Linked DNA regions of Homo sapiens. The protein of the gene in region 1 interacts with the protein of each later gene in a biochemical or structural test. Each region holds a gene or a part of one and is shown in the gene's direction. Other genes may lie near its edges.

The links.
Region 2: the proteins of USP28 (region 1) and SENP1 form a complex in vitro, tested with the Homo sapiens proteins (one study listed by BioGRID).
Region 3: the proteins of USP28 (region 1) and CDC73 form a complex in vitro, tested with the Homo sapiens proteins (one study listed by BioGRID).

The regions. Positions count from the first base shown.
Region 1 is NC_000011.10:113,872,539-113,879,562, reverse strand, and holds the start of USP28 (ubiquitin carboxyl-terminal hydrolase 28), read left to right. Parts: upstream 1-3,990; 5' UTR 3,991-4,061; coding exon 4,062-4,118; intron 4,119-4,683; exon of another isoform or gene 4,684-4,998; coding exon of another isoform or gene 4,999-5,046; intron 5,047-7,024. UniProt on the Homo sapiens protein: Deubiquitinase involved in DNA damage response checkpoint and MYC proto-oncogene stability. Involved in DNA damage induced apoptosis by specifically deubiquitinating proteins of the DNA damage pathway such as CLSPN.
Region 2 is NC_000012.12:48,068,058-48,075,092, reverse strand, and holds part of SENP1 (sentrin-specific protease 1), read left to right. Parts: intron 1-299; coding exon 300-403; intron 404-485; coding exon 486-769; intron 770-3,371; coding exon 3,372-3,426; intron 3,427-7,035. UniProt on the Homo sapiens protein: Protease that catalyzes two essential functions in the SUMO pathway.
Region 3 is NC_000001.11:193,251,018-193,255,337, forward strand, and holds the end of CDC73 (parafibromin), read left to right. Parts: 3' UTR 1-3,798; downstream 3,799-4,320.

The DNA.
Region 1 (7,024 bases):
GGAAGGGAAATGTGGGGTCGGAGCCCCCACACAGAGTCCCTAATGGGGCACTGCCTAGTGGAGCTGTGAGAAGAGGGTCACTGTCCTCCAGAGCCCAGAATGGTGGGTCCACCGACAGCTTGCACTGTGTGCCCGGAAAAGCTGCAGACACTCAATGCCAGCCCATGAAAGCAGCCAAGAGGGAGACTGTACCCTGCAAAGCCACAGGGGCAGAGCTGCCCAAGACCATGGGAACCCACCTTTTGCATCAGTGTGACCTGGATGTGAGAGCTGGAGTCAAAGGAGATCATTTTAGAGCTTTACAATTTGACGGCCTCGCTGGATTTTGGACTTCCTTGGGCCTTGTAACCCCTTTGTTTTGGCCAATTTCTCCCATTGGGAACTGCTGTATTTACCCAATACCTGTACCCCCATTGTATCTAGGAAATAACTAGCTTGCTTTTAATTTTACAGGTTCATAGGCAGAAAGGACTTGCCTTGTCTCAGATGAGACTTTGGACTGCGGACTTTTGGGTTAATGCTGAAATGAGTTAAGACTTTGAGAGGCTGTTGGGAAGGCATGATTGCTTTTGAAATGTGAGGACCTGAGATTTTGAGGGGCCAGAGGTGGAATGATATGGTTTGGCCGTGCCCTCACCCAAATCTCAACTTGAATTTTATCTCCCAGAATTCCCACGTGTTTGTGGGTGGTACGCATGGGGAGGTAATTGAATCATGAGGGCCGGTCTTCCCGTGCTATTTTTGTGATTGTGAATAAGTCTCATGAGATCCAACGGGTTTATCAGAGGTTTCCACTTTTGCTTCTTCCTCATTTTCTCTTGCTGCTGCCATGTAAGAAGAGCCTTTCACCTCCCGCCATGATTCTGAGGCCTCCCCAGCCATGTGGAACTGTGAGTCCAATTAAACCTCTTTCTTCTGTAAATTGCCCAGTCTTGGATATGTCTTCATCAGCAGCGTGAAAACGGACTAATACTTTTTTTTTTTTTTTGGTATTTCCTGTATAGATGGAGTTTTGCCACATTGCCCAGGGTAGTCTCCAACTCCTGAGCTCATGTGATCTGCCCACCTCAGCCTCCTAAACTGCTGGGATTACAGGCATGAACCTGTGATTGGCCTAGGTCTGCTGGTCTTTTAAGAAAATTTTAATGAAGGTTGGGCACGGTGGCTCATGCCTGTAATCCCAGCACTTTGGGAGGCAGAGGCAGGTGGATCACAAGGTTAAGAGTTGGAGACCAGCCTGGCCAACATGGTGAAACCCTGTCTCTACTAAAAATTAGCCAGGCGTGGTGGTGCATGCCTTAGTCCCAGGGGAGTCTGAGGCGCCTGTAGTCCCTCGGGAGTCTGAGGCAGGAGAGCTGCTTGAACCCGGGAGGCAGAGGTTTCAGGGAGCTGAGATCACACCACTGCACTCCAGCCTGGGCGACAGAACGATACCCCGTCTCAAAAAAAAAAAAAAAAAAAGAAAATTTTAATGAATAAGGGTAATATGGTTTGGCTCTGGGTCCCCACCCAAATCTCATGTCGAATTGTATTCCCACTTGCCAGGGGAGGGACCTGGTGGGACATGATTAGATTATGGGGTGGATTTCCCCCATGCATTTCTCATGATAGTGAGTTCTTATGAGATCTTTGTGTGTGTGTGTGTGCGGGGGGTCGGGGGGGACACTTCTTTTGTTCTATCTCTCCTACTCTGCCATGGTGAGACATGCCTGCTTCCCCTTTGCCTTCCACCACGATTGTACGTTTCCTGAGGCCTCCCAGTCTTGCTTCCTGTTATGCCCCTGAGTCAAACCTCTTTTCTTCATAACTTACCCAGGCTCAGGTAATTCTTTATGGCAGTGTGAGAACAGACTAATACAAAGGATTATAGGTTTTGACAGCACTTACACACAATAAACATGCAATTTCCTAAAATGAATGTGTAAAGACAAATAAGGGTTGCTCCAGAGACATGGTAAATAAAGCATTCTAGCAGTGTAGAAATAGGCAATGCTGTAAATAAGCTAGACTCAGAAATCAATGTGGGCTGGGCGTGGTGACTCATGTCTGTAATCCCCAAATTTTGGGAGGCCAAGGCAGGAGGATTGCTTGAGACCAGAAGTTTGAGACCATCCTGGGCAACACAGTGAGATCCCATCTCCATAAAAAAGACACAAAAATTAGTTGGGCATGGCACATGCATGAAGTCCCTGCTGCTTCAGAGGCTGAGGCAGTTGGACTGCTTGAGCCCAGGAATTCAAGGCTGCAGTGAGCCATGATCTCACTACTGTATTTCAGTCTGGGTGACAGAGTGAGACCCTGTCTCAAAAAAAAAAAAAAAAAAAAAGAAAACCAGCATCAACCTGAAATCAACCTGTTCTACAGTGACACCCAGGTTGAGGCCATAAACACAGTCACTCATGAGGAAAGGAAAAATGGCAGAGCCACATACATAAAATGTCCTACTACTCGCAGACACAAACACAGTCAGCCTGTTGAATGTGGAAGATTCCAAGTTAGTATCACCGCAGCCATGCCAATCTGCCAGTTAATCTGCCAGGGGAAGCGGATCCCTGTATCTCCAGGTGGTGGAAGTTGCAGGAGTCCTAGTTCAGGCCTCAGAGAGTAATCTGGCCTCTCCTGGGAGCTGCACCTGACCTGTACCTGTTTCCTTTTGTCAAAAACTGCGCCCGCATGCAGACTAGGGAGGCCTGCAGGTGAAACATAACAATCCCAGCGACAACAATGCCAGGAGTATAGGAAAGGCCACCGTCCATGTTAAATTCACACTTAAAAGTGTAGCTTGAGAGTCAGACCAGACCAGGGCAAGGGTGTAGGTGCTACTCTTAAAAGACGCGCTTCCACACTCAGCCTCTACGCAGATTTGGGACACCCAGCAGCCTGTCAAGTGGGTTTGCCATCATAACACATTTGTATCTTAAATGTGAAACATGGTTCAGTAATCACAATTCCCACACAGTTGTTGAAAATACAATTCAGGCCTGGCGCGGTGGCTCACGCCTATAATCCCAGCATTATGGAAGGCCGAGACGGGCGGATCACCTGAGGTCAGGAATTCGAGGCCAGCCTGGGCAACATGGTGAAACCCTGGGTGTGGTACAGCGTGCCTGTAATCCCAGCTACTCAGGAGAATCGCTTGAACCCAGGAGGCGGAAGTTGCAGTGAGCCGAGACCGTGCGGCTGCACTCCAGCTTGAGGGGACAGAGTGAGACTCCGTCTCAAAAAAAAAGAAAAAAAAAAAAACAAACCGAAACCAACCAAACAAAAAACAATTCAATAGGAGCACCTGGTCTTTTAACATGAAATCGTAAATATCTGGCTCAAACGTAACAAAGTAACACAAAATTTTAGTTTGAACTTCTGAAAATCGAAAATGGAAAAACTGCAATTTTCCTTATCATGCCCAGGTTAAGAGCATCAGGGTTAAGGGCACCAAGCGGGACACCCATGAACGGAGGCTTTGGTCCGTTTGGTTAGCTTTAGACAAGCGACTGCATTCATCCTCCTTCTCTCCTTAAAGATGGTGAACACTTCTTCATGTCATTGGAGTTGGAAATGGCTACAAAGCCTGATGGGAAATCCTTTATTCCACGGTCATTCGGCAGTTTCCCACGGCGGGGGAACAGTTTTAACTCGCCCGTGGGGAGGGTGGAGCCGGAGGTCAGTCCTACAAATGAGGTTTTGAGGGCAGAGAGCGGAGAAGACTCAGGAACGCGGCTCCCAGGATTCGCAAACCCAGTTCCCGGACACTGGCAGCGCGGCCCGCAGCCTCCACCGGCTGTGAAGCTGACCAACAGCGACAGGCGGGGCCGGGATCACGTGACCGACGTCTGGTCAGCCGGGCGTGCGCGGGAGCACGCAGAACTGTTCGGCCCCGGGCCGCGCGCCTTGCGTGCGCGCGCATGCCGGGGGCGGGGCATGTGGGCCAAGCCTCCGGCGCGCGCTGCGGGCGGGGGCGGGACGGAGCGGGGTGGAGGGCGGGGGCGGGGCCTAGTCCTGAGAGGCTGGGCCGGCGGCGGCTGCGGCGGGAGACCGGTGACCCGCGGCTGGGCGCCTCGGCCATGACTGCGGAGCTGCAGCAGGACGACGCGGCCGGCGCGGCAGACGGCCACGGCTCGGTGGGCTCCGCGGCGGCGAGCGGGAGCTGGGGGCGGGCTCCAGGCCCTGAGGGGAGCGTGCGGGGCCTGCAGGGCTGCGGGTTGCGGGCTGCGGAGGGCGCCCCGGCCGGGCGGGACAGGGGGTGCGCCCGCCAGCGTGGGTGAGAAGGCCAAGGGCTCTGCGGGGCTCGGGCCGCGGAGATTGAGGACTGCATCTTCGCGTCCGTGGGCGAGCTGAAGTTGTAGGGGGATTTCCAGATTTTGGAAAACCAAATATAAAGGGCTGGACGTGGGGTTCTCCGCCGCAGGGATCAGTAAGGTGAGCCCTCCTGGGCCCCGTCCGGGGTGAGAAACTTCCGAAAGCGGCAGCGTTGGTTGGTTTTGTTTTGCTTTGACTTTTAAATCAGTTTTATGGCGGCGTTTTTAAAAGGTTAAAGCAGACCGAAGTTATCTCACTTAAAGTCCGGAATTAATCACCGTCTTCTATAAGACCAGGGGTCCCAGTTACCACCACTTCCCTCCCTCCCAACCCGGCTTTAAAAACAAAACAGCGCAGCCTCCCCAATTATTGCCTTCATCGCTCTAGATTTTTAAGGAGGGGGAGGAGCTGCGTGATGAATAGAAAGTCTACTGATGATGATCTCCTGTTCCCAATGTCTAAGAAGATTGAAATCAATATAAGGACTTCTGATCTAAGAATCTGGTGAGAGTGAAAGAACCCTGGTTTGAGAGAAAAGCTAATGTCTGTATGAAGAAACTTGGGAAGAGGGCAATTTGAGCATGTCTTCTAGTGTTACTTCGGAATGTTATAACTTAACACCACCTCCTCACCCCTCAAGTACTGCACTTTTTCAAGAGAAAACGGGAAATCTGTGCCAGTTGTTCAAATACGAGTTTGGAGATGAGAAACTATATTTGTCGTACAAAGCTGGCAGACAGATACCCTCAGGTGAGAATCCTTTTATACCTTTTTACTCTTTTGTCTGGAAGGCCAGTAGTATTTAGCATGGAGACACTTTTTTTTTTTTTTTTTTTTTTTTTTCGACAGAGTCTCCCTCTGTTGCCTAGGCTGGAGTGCTGTGGCGCGATGTCGGCTCACTGCATCCTCCGCCTCACCCTCCTGAGTAGCTGGTATTACAGGTGCTTGCCACCGGCCCGGCTAATTTTTGTATTTTTAGTAGAGTCGGGGTTTCACCATATTGGTCAGGCTGGTCTCAAACTCCCGACTTAAGGTGATTCGCCCGCCTCGGCCTTCCAGAGTGCTGGGATTACAGGCGTGAGCCACCGCGCCCAGTCTGGACGCACTTTTTTTTTTTTTTTTTTTCCAGACGGAGTCTCACTTTGTCGCCCAGGCTGGGGTGCAGTGGCGCGATCTCGGCTCACTGCAACTTCCGTCTCCCGGGTTCAAGCGATTCTCCTGCCTCAGCCTCCCGAGTAGCTGGGACTACAGGCGCGTGCCACCACGCCCAGCTAATTTTTGTATTTTTAGTAGAGATGGGATTTCACTGTGTTGGCCAGGATGGTCTCGGTCTCTTGACCTCATGATCCGCCCGCCTCGGCCTCCCAAAGTGCTGGGATTACAGGCGTGAACCAGGGCGCCCAGCCTGGATGCGCTTTTTAAAACTCATGTAGAAAAAGATACTTCCAGGTCCTGGGCTCCGAAACGAAAGTATCATGCACTGACTTCTAATGGAAATATTGTTAGATGTTCACAAGTGCCTATTGAAATGTGTCAAGATTTTTCTCTGGCTTCAGAGGTCAGTTCTATTTGTTTTTAGCACAGTGATTTAAAAACATGGGAAAATTTTAGTTTGGAGACTATCATATTGATTTAGAGAAGAGACTATTTTAAGGGAGAGAGAAGTCATATTTAAATTTGTCGTGGCTCAGTCATTTAAGACCATGTGCCTATTAATCAGTGGCATCTTCATTTACCTCTGCCGCAGTTTGAGTAGTGACCCTATTTCAGCATTCTCCGTTTGAGACTGTGTGTGAGCTACTTGATGAGCATTTGTATGTAAGTCATAGCTATTTTGGGAAGGCTTGGAACTCCAGTGGCTGTGGCTGGCTGGAGTACTCCGATTCCTGGCCACCTGCAGAGTGATGACATTTACTGTTCTTCCCAGTGATTTGCCCTATACGGAAAGCTGATAAGCTTGGAATGCTTGATAATGTTTGCCCCTTTTATTTTTGCTAATAAAATGCTTCAAGTTACCAGGATAGGTTGAAGGAACTTACAGGAAAAGTACCTTTTGATCTTACAGGAAAGATTTTAATAACTTCTTCCTCATCTTGGTAAGTTTCATGTTAGAATGGATTCTTTTATTTTGAACTCTCTGAGGCATTCTACCTTTCCCTTAAAGGATATTTCATTGTTCTAGTTGAGGAGAGCTATCCTTCCCTGACACTCAGAAGCTATTTAAAGCCTAGACTGCTTCCCTTCCCTTATTGGTCAGTTGTACACAGGACAGACAAAACCCTTTATGGCCTCCCAAGAATTTTAGTGCGAGAAATATGTAGTACTCTTGAAATATGCTATCAGTATGGACTCGAATCTGAGAGTAGACACTTTATGATTTCACTAAATCCTCTAGACTGCAAACTGGTATTCGAATATCTAAAGAGGTTACATAGTGACAGATTCCTGTATTTTAATCAATTCTTGACTTCGATAGCAGCAAAATTTACTGTTATTACAGGAGAAACAACTTGAAGTCAGTTTGGTTCTTATAAACCTGTCATTCTTGGCAGCTGTACTGAGGGTTCACATCACACATTCTTTATGTCAGCTGAAGCCTTATAAAAACCTGCCAGTTTCAGTGAAAATTTAATGCCCTTTTTGCTTTCTCTTGATTTATTGACCTTTCGTTTCCTTTTGTCTCATTAACTGATTTTTAAAACATCAGTAAGTCAGTGATTGGTTCCAC
Region 2 (7,035 bases), on another chromosome or scaffold:
AGGCATGTGCCACTACAGCCAGTTGGTTTTTTTTTTTAAGTTTTCTTTTGTAGAGTTGGGGTCTCACTATGTTGACTGGGCTGGTTTTGAACTTCTAGCCTCAAATGATCCTCCCCGCTTGTCCTCCCAAAGTGCTGGAATTACAGGCATGAGCCACTGTGTTAGGCCCATAATTCTTAATTATCTTAAGGATTCTGCCTGAGCTTTGGCAGAGCTAGGATTCTGTTTACATGCTAGTTTGAGAAATACTTGCCTTATTGGATGTGTTTAAACTGTTTTTTTTTTTTGTTTTCTTATAGACAGTTCAAGAAGAAGAAAGAGAGATTTACAGACAGCTGCTACAGATGGTCACAGGGAAACAGTTTACTATAGCCAAACCCACCACACATTTTCCTTTACACCTGTGAGTCACAGAAGCATATTTCAGATGAATTTAATTCTACAATTTATTACTTGATATTGAAACAATATTCTTCTCTTGCTAGGTCTCGATGTCTTAGTTCCAGTAAAAATACTTTGAAAGACTCACTGTTTAAAAATGGAAACTCTTGTGCATCTCAGATCATTGGCTCTGATACTTCATCATCTGGATCTGCCAGCATTTTAACTAACCAGGAACAGCTGTCCCACAGTGTATATTCCCTATCTTCTTATACCCCAGATGTTGCATTTGGATCCAAAGATTCTGGTACTCTTCATCATCCCCATCATCACCACTCTGTTCCACATCAGCCAGATAACTTAGCAGCTTCAAATACACAATCTGAAGGTAAACATGGTATCATATAACTACATTTTTAGTCCTAATAGCCAATTAACTGTTCATTAGCTCATTACAGGCAACATTGTAATATACATATAAATAAATGAGCATACCGAATCTGAAAATATGAAGTCCGAAATGTTCCAAAATCTGAAACTTTTTGAATACCAACATGATACTCAGGAAATGCTCAGTGGAGCATTTGGGATTTTGGATGTTTGGATTTGGGATGCTCAAATTGTATAATGCAAATATTCAAAAGTCCAAAAAATCCAAAATTTGAAACTCCTGGTCCCAACCATTTTGGATAAGGGATACTGAACTTGTAAGACATGTACTTACATACTTTAAATACATATGATTCAGTTAACCATGCTGTGAGTAAACTAAATCCACAAATAGGATATTCTTTTTTTCTTACCTCAAGATGCAAATGATTTGATACATTTTATTTAAACAACTTCCTAAGTACAGGCTAGAGTCAAAGTATATATACTCAGCCCAATTGCTTCAGCACTTTCTCTGTTTCTATGACTTTACAGTGGTAAGTAAGAATTCTGAAGTTGTAGGAGTTTTGAAACATCAGATAAATACTGAAGCTTAAGTACTTAGGTTTGTGCGTTTTAGAATGATTGTCAGCATTGGAAGCAAAAAGTTTTCTACGTAACTTTCAACTAACTGAAATATTCACTCTCTTTGCATTCCAGTTAATTAAGGTTTTGTCGTGATAGGTTTGTTTCCTTAATTTCCCCCTTCTTTAGGTATGTATTATGTATCAATTTATGGTATGTACTTAGGTATGCAACTTAAAACAAGTTATAGGTTAAATGGTTAAACATCAGGGATTTTTTGATAGATGGAGCACTAGTCTTTCCCCTCCTTTCTCAGGTTGTTTGAGGTTTTTTTTTTAATCTATTTGTACTTTGTGAAAATTCTCACTCAGGATTAAACTTTTTGGTAGCATCATTGTATAGCTACACATATCCATGAAGACTCTTGTTATATTTTGTGAGGTGATGTACTGAGAACTGTAAAGGAAAAAAAAAAGCCAAAAAACCCAAACTCCTTTAACCTCAGAAACATACATTGTGTTGCAGATACTTAGATACAACTAAGTTGAAACAAATATACTACATTGCACTGTTTAATTACTTTCCTTGTACCATGTAATAAATACTCTGAGGTTCTAATGACAGCACTTTAGAAGAACATGATTCCTGCCTTTGAGTAGTATTCAACAGAGAAAATACATAATAGAATGATAAAATTTGTACTTTTTAGACACCTCCTGGGGTGCTATTTCCTTCCCTGTCCCCCTTCCCTCCTTCTTCCAGTTTCTTTCCCTCTTCCATTCCCCCACCCCTTCTTTCACCTAATTCAGTCGCATTGTAGATCATGAACTACAGTAGTTCCCCCTTATCTGTGGGGGGAGGATATGTTCCAAGACCCGCCCCCCACCAGTGGATGCTTGAAACCATGGAGAGTATACTATATATACCATACCCTATATACATCATGTTTTTTCCTATACATACATACTAATGATTATAAATTAGGTGCAGTAAGAGATCAACAATAATAACTAATAACAAAAATTATAACAATATACTGTAATGAAGATGTTACTTTTTTCTTATTAAATCAAAAACTTTAACCTTTTCACTTAAAGGAAGTAGTGTTTTTTGTTTTTGTTTTTGTTTTTGTTTGTTTTTGAGACTGAGTGTCACTCTGTTGCTCAGGCTGGAGTACAGTGGGACCATCTTGGTTCACTGCAACCTCGCATGTCCTGGGTTCAAGCGATTCTGCTGCCTCAGCCTCCTGAGTAGCTGGGATTACAGGTGTGAGCCATTATGCCCAGCTAATTTTTGTATTCTTAGCAGAGACAGGTTTCACCATGTTGGCCAGGCTGGGGAAGCACTTTTTACGGCTTCTCTTTGGCATACCTGAATTGCCAACATCATTACTTTTGCCTTTTGGGGACATTATTAAGTAAGGGTTACTGAACACAAGCACTGCTATACTGAGACAGTCAATTGGATGACTGAGGTGACTACTAAATGACAGGTGGTGCATACAACATGGATATGCTGGACAAAGGGATGATTTCATGCCTGAAATAGAGCTGGATAGAGATTTTTATCACATTACTTGGAATGGCATGCAATTTAAAATTTACTAATTATTTCTGGAATTTTCCATTTAATATATTTGGACCGCAGTTAACTATGCGTAACTGAAACCATAGAAACCAAAATTGCAGATAGAGGACTACCATGAAGACTTTTAAGGAATCCTGCCATGTTCTTGTTCTCCTGAAACAGACAGGAAGCACAGGGAGCAAGTGCAGCCTAGGAGGAAATTCTGAAGGGCAAATATGTTTGTTATTTCCCAGGGATTTTCTTATTTGTGAAGCAAATTCTTCACTAAGACCTATTTCTGTTCTCAGTGACAATGGACTTGCCTCTCTCTCTCTCCCATCTAACCTTTGTTCTTATGTTATTTTTGTGGAAATAAAATATAGCAAAGTATGGGAACTTAAACTAAGATATCTAGAAAGTATAACTTTGTGGAGTTTTATTACTAATGAAATGCTCTTGTGTTTCTTTAGGATCAGACTCTGTGATTTTACTGAAAGTGAAAGATTCCCAGACTCCAACTCCCAGGTAAACTTTGGAAAAAGCTTGTTCTTTATTAATTAATTAATATATCTTTTTGAGACGGAGTCTCGCTCTGTTGCCCAGGCTGGAGTGTAGTGGCGCGATCTTGGTTCACTGCAACCTCCACCTCCCTGGTTCAAGCAATTCTTCTGCCTCAGCCTCCCGAGTAGCTAGGATTACAGGCGCCCGCCACCACGCCCAGCTAATTTTTGTATTTTTAGTAGAGATGGGGTTTTGCTGTGTTGGCCAGGCTGGTCTCGAACTCCTGACCTCAAGTGATCCACCTGCCTCGGCCTCCCAAAGTGCTGGGATTACAGGCGTGAGCCACCATGCCTGGCCTAAAAGTTTCTTCTTAACATATTGTTTTCCCTTTCTTTAATCACAGCTTTTTCACTAAAAGTTACATAATGTAAAACTACCTCAATTCAGACCTTTCTCACGTATTACTTGAATTATTTTAGTGGCTTTATAATTGTTCTTCCTTCAGCCTCTATTTTGTTCTTCATTCCGTCTTCCACCATACCATGTTCTTGAAACAATTTTTCTGCCTTGCTCTTTTTTCATTTGTTTTTGTTTTTGTTTTTGTTTTGAGACAGGGTCTTGCTCTGTCACCCAGGCAAGAGTGCAGTGGCACAATCATGGCTCACTGGAGCTTTGAACTCCTGGGCTCAAGTGATCCTCTTGCCTCAGCTGGGACCACATATGCATGCCACCATACTTGGCTAACTTTTAAATTTTTCTTTTGTAGAGACGGGATCTTGCTATGTTGACCAGGCTGGTTTTGTACTCCTAGCCTCAAGCGATCCTCCTAACTTGGCCTTCCAAAGTGCTGGGATCGTAGGTGTGAGCCACTGCACCCGGCCTGCTGTGTTCTTTAGTCCATCTTCCATGCTGCAATCAGAGTGATCTTTCAGAATTCATGTCTGATCATTCATTAAAGGGGTTTAATGATTATTTGTTAACCTCCTTCAAGGGTGGTTTATCAGACATTGAATTAAGCTCAGGCTCCTTACTATGGTATACAAAGCACTTCTTTCACAAGCCTCACTTTCTCACTTTTAACAAATATTTACTGAGAGCCTACTGTGTGCCAGGTACTAGTATAAATATTGAGGATAATAGGGAACAATGTGAAGTCCCTATTCTCAAGGAGCTTGCATTCTACTTGAGGGGAAGGATGAAGGACAATGTGAAGTCCCTATGCTCAAGGAGCTTGCATTCTACTTGAGGGGAAGGATAAACAAATGTATATGCCTTGTGATAAGTGCTATGAAGAAAATTGAAGCAGGGTAATATATAGAGTAGGATTGGGAGGATACTATTTGTATAGGGTGGTCATGGAAAGTCTCTGATAAAGTGACTTGAGCAGAGACATGATGGAGGTAAGAGGGAGCCATATGGAAATATGGGACTCTTTCATGTGTTTTTATAAGCTGGACTATTTTCAGTTTGCAAATACAATAAGCATTTCTTACCTTCACATTCAGTGTTCTTTTTGCCTGGAATGTCCTCCGTACCTCAACTTTGTCTGTCAGTAGTGTTTTATCTTTTAGGTCTCAACTCACATGTGAACTTCTGCATGAAACTTTACTTATCTGGAGGTATCAAATACTTCTTCCTCTGTAATACAGTAATAGTAATCCATAGTAACCATTACTATGATTGCTATGCCTTTGCCATATATGGCTTTGGGAATTCAATTGCTAGGATGAGAATAATATCAGTTTTCCGTTGAGAAGATTAAGAGTAATGAAATATTCTTTCTCATCTCAGTTCCCCTACTTCTTTGCAGCTCCCCATATGTTCTAAGCTTTAAATATTTCTTAAAATTCTCTATTTGTTAAGTCTTTTGGGGAGACTTCATAGTTTGGATTCTTTATTTCTTACATCTTTTTTGGAGTCAGATCTGCCTTCTGATCTTGGGTTGGAAAAGGCTTCATGTAGCTTTGGACAAGTTACTCTTATGAACCTCAGTTTCCTTATCAATAAAATGCCAGTATTGATACCTTACACTTAATTGTGAAGATTAACTTACAGATAAAACACTTATTTTTATAAGTGCTTCACATGAAATGCCACAAGATGCATGCAACTTTCTTGGGAAGAAGTTGATCTCTCAGGTAAAGAGTTGATCTCAGTTCCTTAATGGTTCTTTACTAAGACTGCCTTTCCTTTACGGAGGATTTCCCCTAGTGATGACTAAAGAATGAGATGGCAGGAGAAATGGTCTGTTGGGTAAGGCTGTTTGAGCAATGCTCTTTGTCAAAGTTGGTGCCTACTCTGCTGAGGCTTGGTTTATTGGCTCTCTACTCTTAATTCTCCACTACTGCCTCTCAGTTAAGTTCCAGTAATGAAGATCTGCTTTTATTTCCCAGAATATGCTATGCTGTGTCATACCTCTTTGCCTTTATACATTCTGATCCTTCTGTCTGGATGTCCCTTTCTCTCTCTGTCTACTTGGTAAGCTCTTATTTTGCTTCCTTTTCTTTCTTTCTTTTTTTTTTTTTTTTTTTTTTTTTTGTGACAGAGTCTTGCTCTATCATCCAGGCTGGAGTGCAGTGGCACAATCTCTGCTCACTGCAACCTCCGCCTCCCGGGTTCAAGTGATTCTCGTGCCTTACCCTCCAGGGTAGCTGGGATTACAGGCATATGCCACCACACCCAGCTAATTTTTGTATTTTTAGTGGAGATTGGGTTTCACCATGTTGGCCAAGCTGGTCTCGAACTCCTGACCTCCGGTGTTCCACCCACCTCAGCCTCCCAAAGTGCTGGGATTACAGGCATGAGCCACTGTGCCTGGCCTTAATTTTGCTTTTCAAAATCTCATCCAGGTGTTATTTTTTTTTTCTCAGAAGATTTCTTTGACTTTGCCAGATAATGTTAGTTTTTCCCTCCATCCTTCTACCTTGTTTGTTACTAATACTTTTGTATCTGTCACCCATTGCTGGTCATAGTGCTTGGCATATGATGGGTGCTCAGTAAATAAATCTTTGTTAAACAAATGAATTTCCTAGATAGCCTGAAGTGCTCTCTTGAGTAGCCCAAGTACTTATTCCTCCCCCGCTTTTTTTTAATGCTTTCATCTATTGAAAGGCACAGTCGAAAGAACACAGTCTTTGGAATTGGACAGATAAGATTTCTAATCCTAGCCTTTCAAGAGAAATTATCTTTTTGAACCTCCTTTTTCATTTCTGTACAGTATGAGTAATAATTCTTTTTTATATATTATGTTGAGGTTTAAATAGTATAGGGATTTTCATTAGGCTTAACTAATACATAAAACATCTAGAGCAGAGTTTTACATGTAGAGCACTAAGTATGTGCTCAAAAACATTTGCAGTTATTATTACTATATGCCTCAATTATATGAGAAATAATGCATCTCTTTGGAAAAGCAGATTTTCCCTGCATTTTGTTTTCCGGAGCCAGTGGATACCTTGATCCATTGAAGAAAACTGCTTGTCCCTACATTACTTGTTTATTCAAGAAATACTATATGGCTGGGCATGGTGGCTCATGCCTGTAATCCTAGCACTTTGGGAAGGCCAAGGTGGATGGATCACCGGAGGTCATGAGTTCGAGACCAGCCTGGCCAACATGGTGAAACCTCGTCTC
Region 3 (4,320 bases), on another chromosome or scaffold:
ATATTTAGAGATTATAAGGCTCTCTGAGCCATCTTCTGATTTTTCATTGCTCTATAATTCTTTTTACTGAAAATACTATGTTATGAATGGTATTAAATTTTAGTCTCTGGAACATCCAAAACCAAGCAAAGGGATGTGACTATTTTGAATGAATCAGAATGTCAACTTGTATGTACACTATATCTACACTTACTCATTATTTAAAAAGAATAATGAAAAATCTAGATCAATTCTTCAATTTGATTGAACTGTTCAGCCTTTTCAAGATTTCTTTATTTACAAATGATTACATTTAAATGAATGTACATTCTTCTCACTGACTTTGGTGATTTTGAAACCTAGAATGATGTGTTTCTATCTGTAATATCTTTCCATTTGAAAAAAATCTCAAAACACAGATTAAAACCACAATAGGCTGTAGTATTTTTTATTTTGGGAGCCAGAGTATGATTTGGGGGAAGAATATGTATCAGCCCTATTGCAGTATAACTTTAAGCTCCTTTTCTCTTTAGTCCACTTTTGATTGTAATTTTTATGGTATAGGATTTTGAATCTTCTATTTTAGGCTTGTCAGTCTTGGAGTTCTTATCTTCCATTATCCCTAAATATTGATAAACTCCCAGGCACCAAAGAAAACATTTGCTTAATTGTCTGAAAAGAAACAAGAGAAAAACACTGGTATTTTTATGTCTGTATTCAATATGGTATAAAATATAAAAACTATATTTTAACTTAGTGAAATATTTTACTATTTCTCTACTTCAGACAAAATGTTGCATCCAAGGTACATCAAGTGACCATTTGCCTTGAACCTTGATTTCACTTTGTTTTTTTTTTTTCCTTAAAGGCAACTAGGAAGCTTTACTTTCCTAAAGTGTTTTTGCCATTGGAATTTTTGCTGATCACAGTCTTATGTCATTTTTTTCTCTGTTTTTATTCCCAGCAATTTTCTCCTAGGTTAACATATTTTTGGTGAACGTTTAGGCCTTTCATAGGTATTAAGCTGACATTATCTAGCTTCTTAATGAAATTTAACACTGTCACAAAAATGAGAAGTTATTATTTTTTAAGTGATCACATAGTTCATACCACTAGTAACTAGAAAAGATATTTATTCACATGATATTTACAAGGCTCTTCAGAAGGGAACAGTCAGCATTTTAAATTACTAGATTTTAGCATACTTAACAAGGTTTGAACAGATTCTACCCCTATTTTCCTCCCTTTTTAGCGTCTTCTTTCCTTAAAGATAAAAGAAAACTCAAATTTGTTTACATTAGGCTTTCTTAGCATATAAATATATTTCCAAAATAAATTACATGTTGTGTAAACTTTCTCCATGATGAAATAGTCAAGGACCAGAATCTGTAATATTTTTATGTAAGATTACTTGTCAAGACTACTACAAGTCAGTATGAACTACCTTCCCATAAAGATTTTTGGTATTTGTACTTATTTATGAACTTTACTTGAGACAGAATATGGTTAAAATTAGGAACATCTACTTTGAATGAGGTTTATTTTTCTATTTTGAATTTGCCTTATGTATATTCAAAGGCTTATGGAAATACTGTAAAGGAACATTAGGAAAAGGACAAATAGGCTATAACCATCTATCTTAAAATCAGACCCTTAGTATAAGCACCTCTTTTTCTTTTCCTCTTTGACAATTTAGTCTCTTATTTAGGTCCATGTAATTAATTTCATTCCATTATTTTTTAGCTGTTTATTCTAAAAAACAAAAATTTTCAGCCACTCCCATTTATTCTCCCATGACATGGTCCTATATAGCAGTACTTAACACAGTGCCTTGCACATAGTAGGCATTCAGTAAATACTTACATGCATGAATGAATAATGTATTTTCAGTGTAACAAATTTATTATAAAAGTGTAGTTCGACTCTTCTTGGTCTTGGAGTTTGAGAGTACAGAATTACAGGGAATGAAGAGAGGTATAAGTAGATATTTTAATGGAAATGAAGTATAAATTAATAACTTGACTTACCCCTCCATAAGTTACTGCTAACTGGAGATACCCTTGTATGCCCAACCTGTAAAGGAAAAAGTTCTATTTCTATATTTATAGGACATTCTTCTCAGTCAAGGAACAGTAAGAAATATGTAGGTTTCAATCAGTTGCTCTCAACCCTGACTGCATTTTAGAATCATTTGGAGAGTTTTTAAAAATATCCATGCCTGAATCTTGATTCCCATTTTCATGTAATTTGAGACAAGACCTGGTCATCAGTATTTTTTTTAAAGTTCTCCAGGTAATTTGAATGTGCAGGAAGGATTCAGAATCACTGGTTTAATTTGTTATTGAAAACAGTACCAGTATTAAATGTGTTTCCTCTTCCTTCTTTTCTGTATGTATGTGTGGTTTTTGATTTTTTGTTGTTGTTGTTGTTTTGTGGCCACCCTTTGCACTAGACCATCCCTTTTATTGGTGGTATTGGCCTATATTCCCATTGACAAATGCAATTTTTAATTATTTATTTAATATAGGAGTATTTTACTGTTTAATATTTAAACAATGTTTAATGTATTTCATTATTAACTAGTATTATAGTTTGTTTTTTTCCCATGTCTCCATAACTTTTACTAACATTTGTTTTTAGCAGCACAACAGTAATCCATATAAAAACAACTAATTCATAATGAGGAAAATCTCATAATTTTTAAGGCAGAAAGAAGTATTAATTTTTGATCTGCCATGTAGAATGAGACAAATACAGTTTGCTTATGAAAGGAAAGTGGCATACTTTTAAATTGGTCTACACAGAAAAGTAAAAGTAAACTATTCATTTAAATAAGATTCATTATCTAATAAATATTGAGGGAATATTTTTCCTAAATAAAAATTTTTCTGACTGCTAACAAAAATTAAAGTGATTACATTGTTCTTTTTTGGAGGGGTGGGGAGGAATATTTGTTGAACTAAAGTATATAAAATTTTTTGAGACTAGCAGTATATTTTATAATATTACAAATACAACAATTATTTATAAAAGCTAGTCAAATTAATGGCTTAGAAAGTAGCTGTAAACTTTGTGTTTTGAAATTGCTTGTTTAAATGCAAAATTATGAGTAAGATAAGTCTTTTTAAATTTTTTATTTTTAATTTTTTTGGAAGTTTATTAAAGCCCTTCATATACACATACTTTTTAAAAAAAGATTCTTAATAAAGAAATTATTGGTTTGTCTGGTTAAAGTCCATATAGAATGCTGAGAAATAATTTATAAAATAAGAACTATAGAAATTTGTTCTCAGCTGAAAAGTTGGCAGCTGCTCTGTTTCTTTAAAAAAGTACAACATGAAAATTTAATTACATTAGCCTTAATATTACTTGACTGAATTTCTACTATTTATTCACTTGTGTTTGAGATTCACCCAGCTATTCTAATGATAGAAATAAAAAGTGGAGAAATGACTAAAGTTGACTTAAGTTAAGAATTGGAGTGGGAATTTTGAAATGCCATGTCCTATATATTCTGGCATATTTGTTGGCACATTTGCAAGTATGTTGATCCCAGCATTGTTTATATCTGTTGGAATAATAACTAAGGAAAAATTGAAAATGTATAATAGATGTATAAAGATTTATATTTAGTTAGTATATAATAGATAATACTTGCAGGTTTTTTATGTGTTTTGGGTTTCTGTGTATTATTTTAGGTAATCTTTATAAGGGCATCTTGGAAGTTATAAATATGTGCCATTTACTGAAAAGTGGGAAGCATTTTTATATGAGTAAAGCTAATGAAATAAAACTAGTTTTATTGCCAAAATTCAAAAAGTGGGGTTCATGCTATGTCGAATTTAAGCAAATGATCTGTCTGAGGATTTTGTTTGCCATTGAATTCCATTTCTGTCCACTTTAAATTTACTAAAAGCTATTTAACCTGAGTTTGATTATAATGCTTCATAAGTAATGCAGTTCATGTACATAGAGTAAGTGCTGTAAGTGATTTTTTAACCACCAGTTGGTGCTGTTTCTCAAAGTGGTTCTTAATTAGAGTTTAAGTTTGGGTGCCATGTGAACTCATAAAATATTCTACTCATTCTTTTTGTTTTTCTTTGTTTTGTTTTCTTTGTTTTATTTTTCATTCTGTTTGTTTTTCTTTGTTTGTTTTTGAGATGGAGTCTCACTCTGTCACCCAGGCTGGAGTGCAGTGCTGCGATCTTGGCTCACTGCAGCCTCCACCTCCTGGGTTCATGCAGTTCTCCTGCCTCAGCCTCCCGAGTAGCTGGGATTATGGGTGTGCACCACCACACCTGGCTATATTTGTATTTTTTAGTGGAGACAGAGTTTCACCAT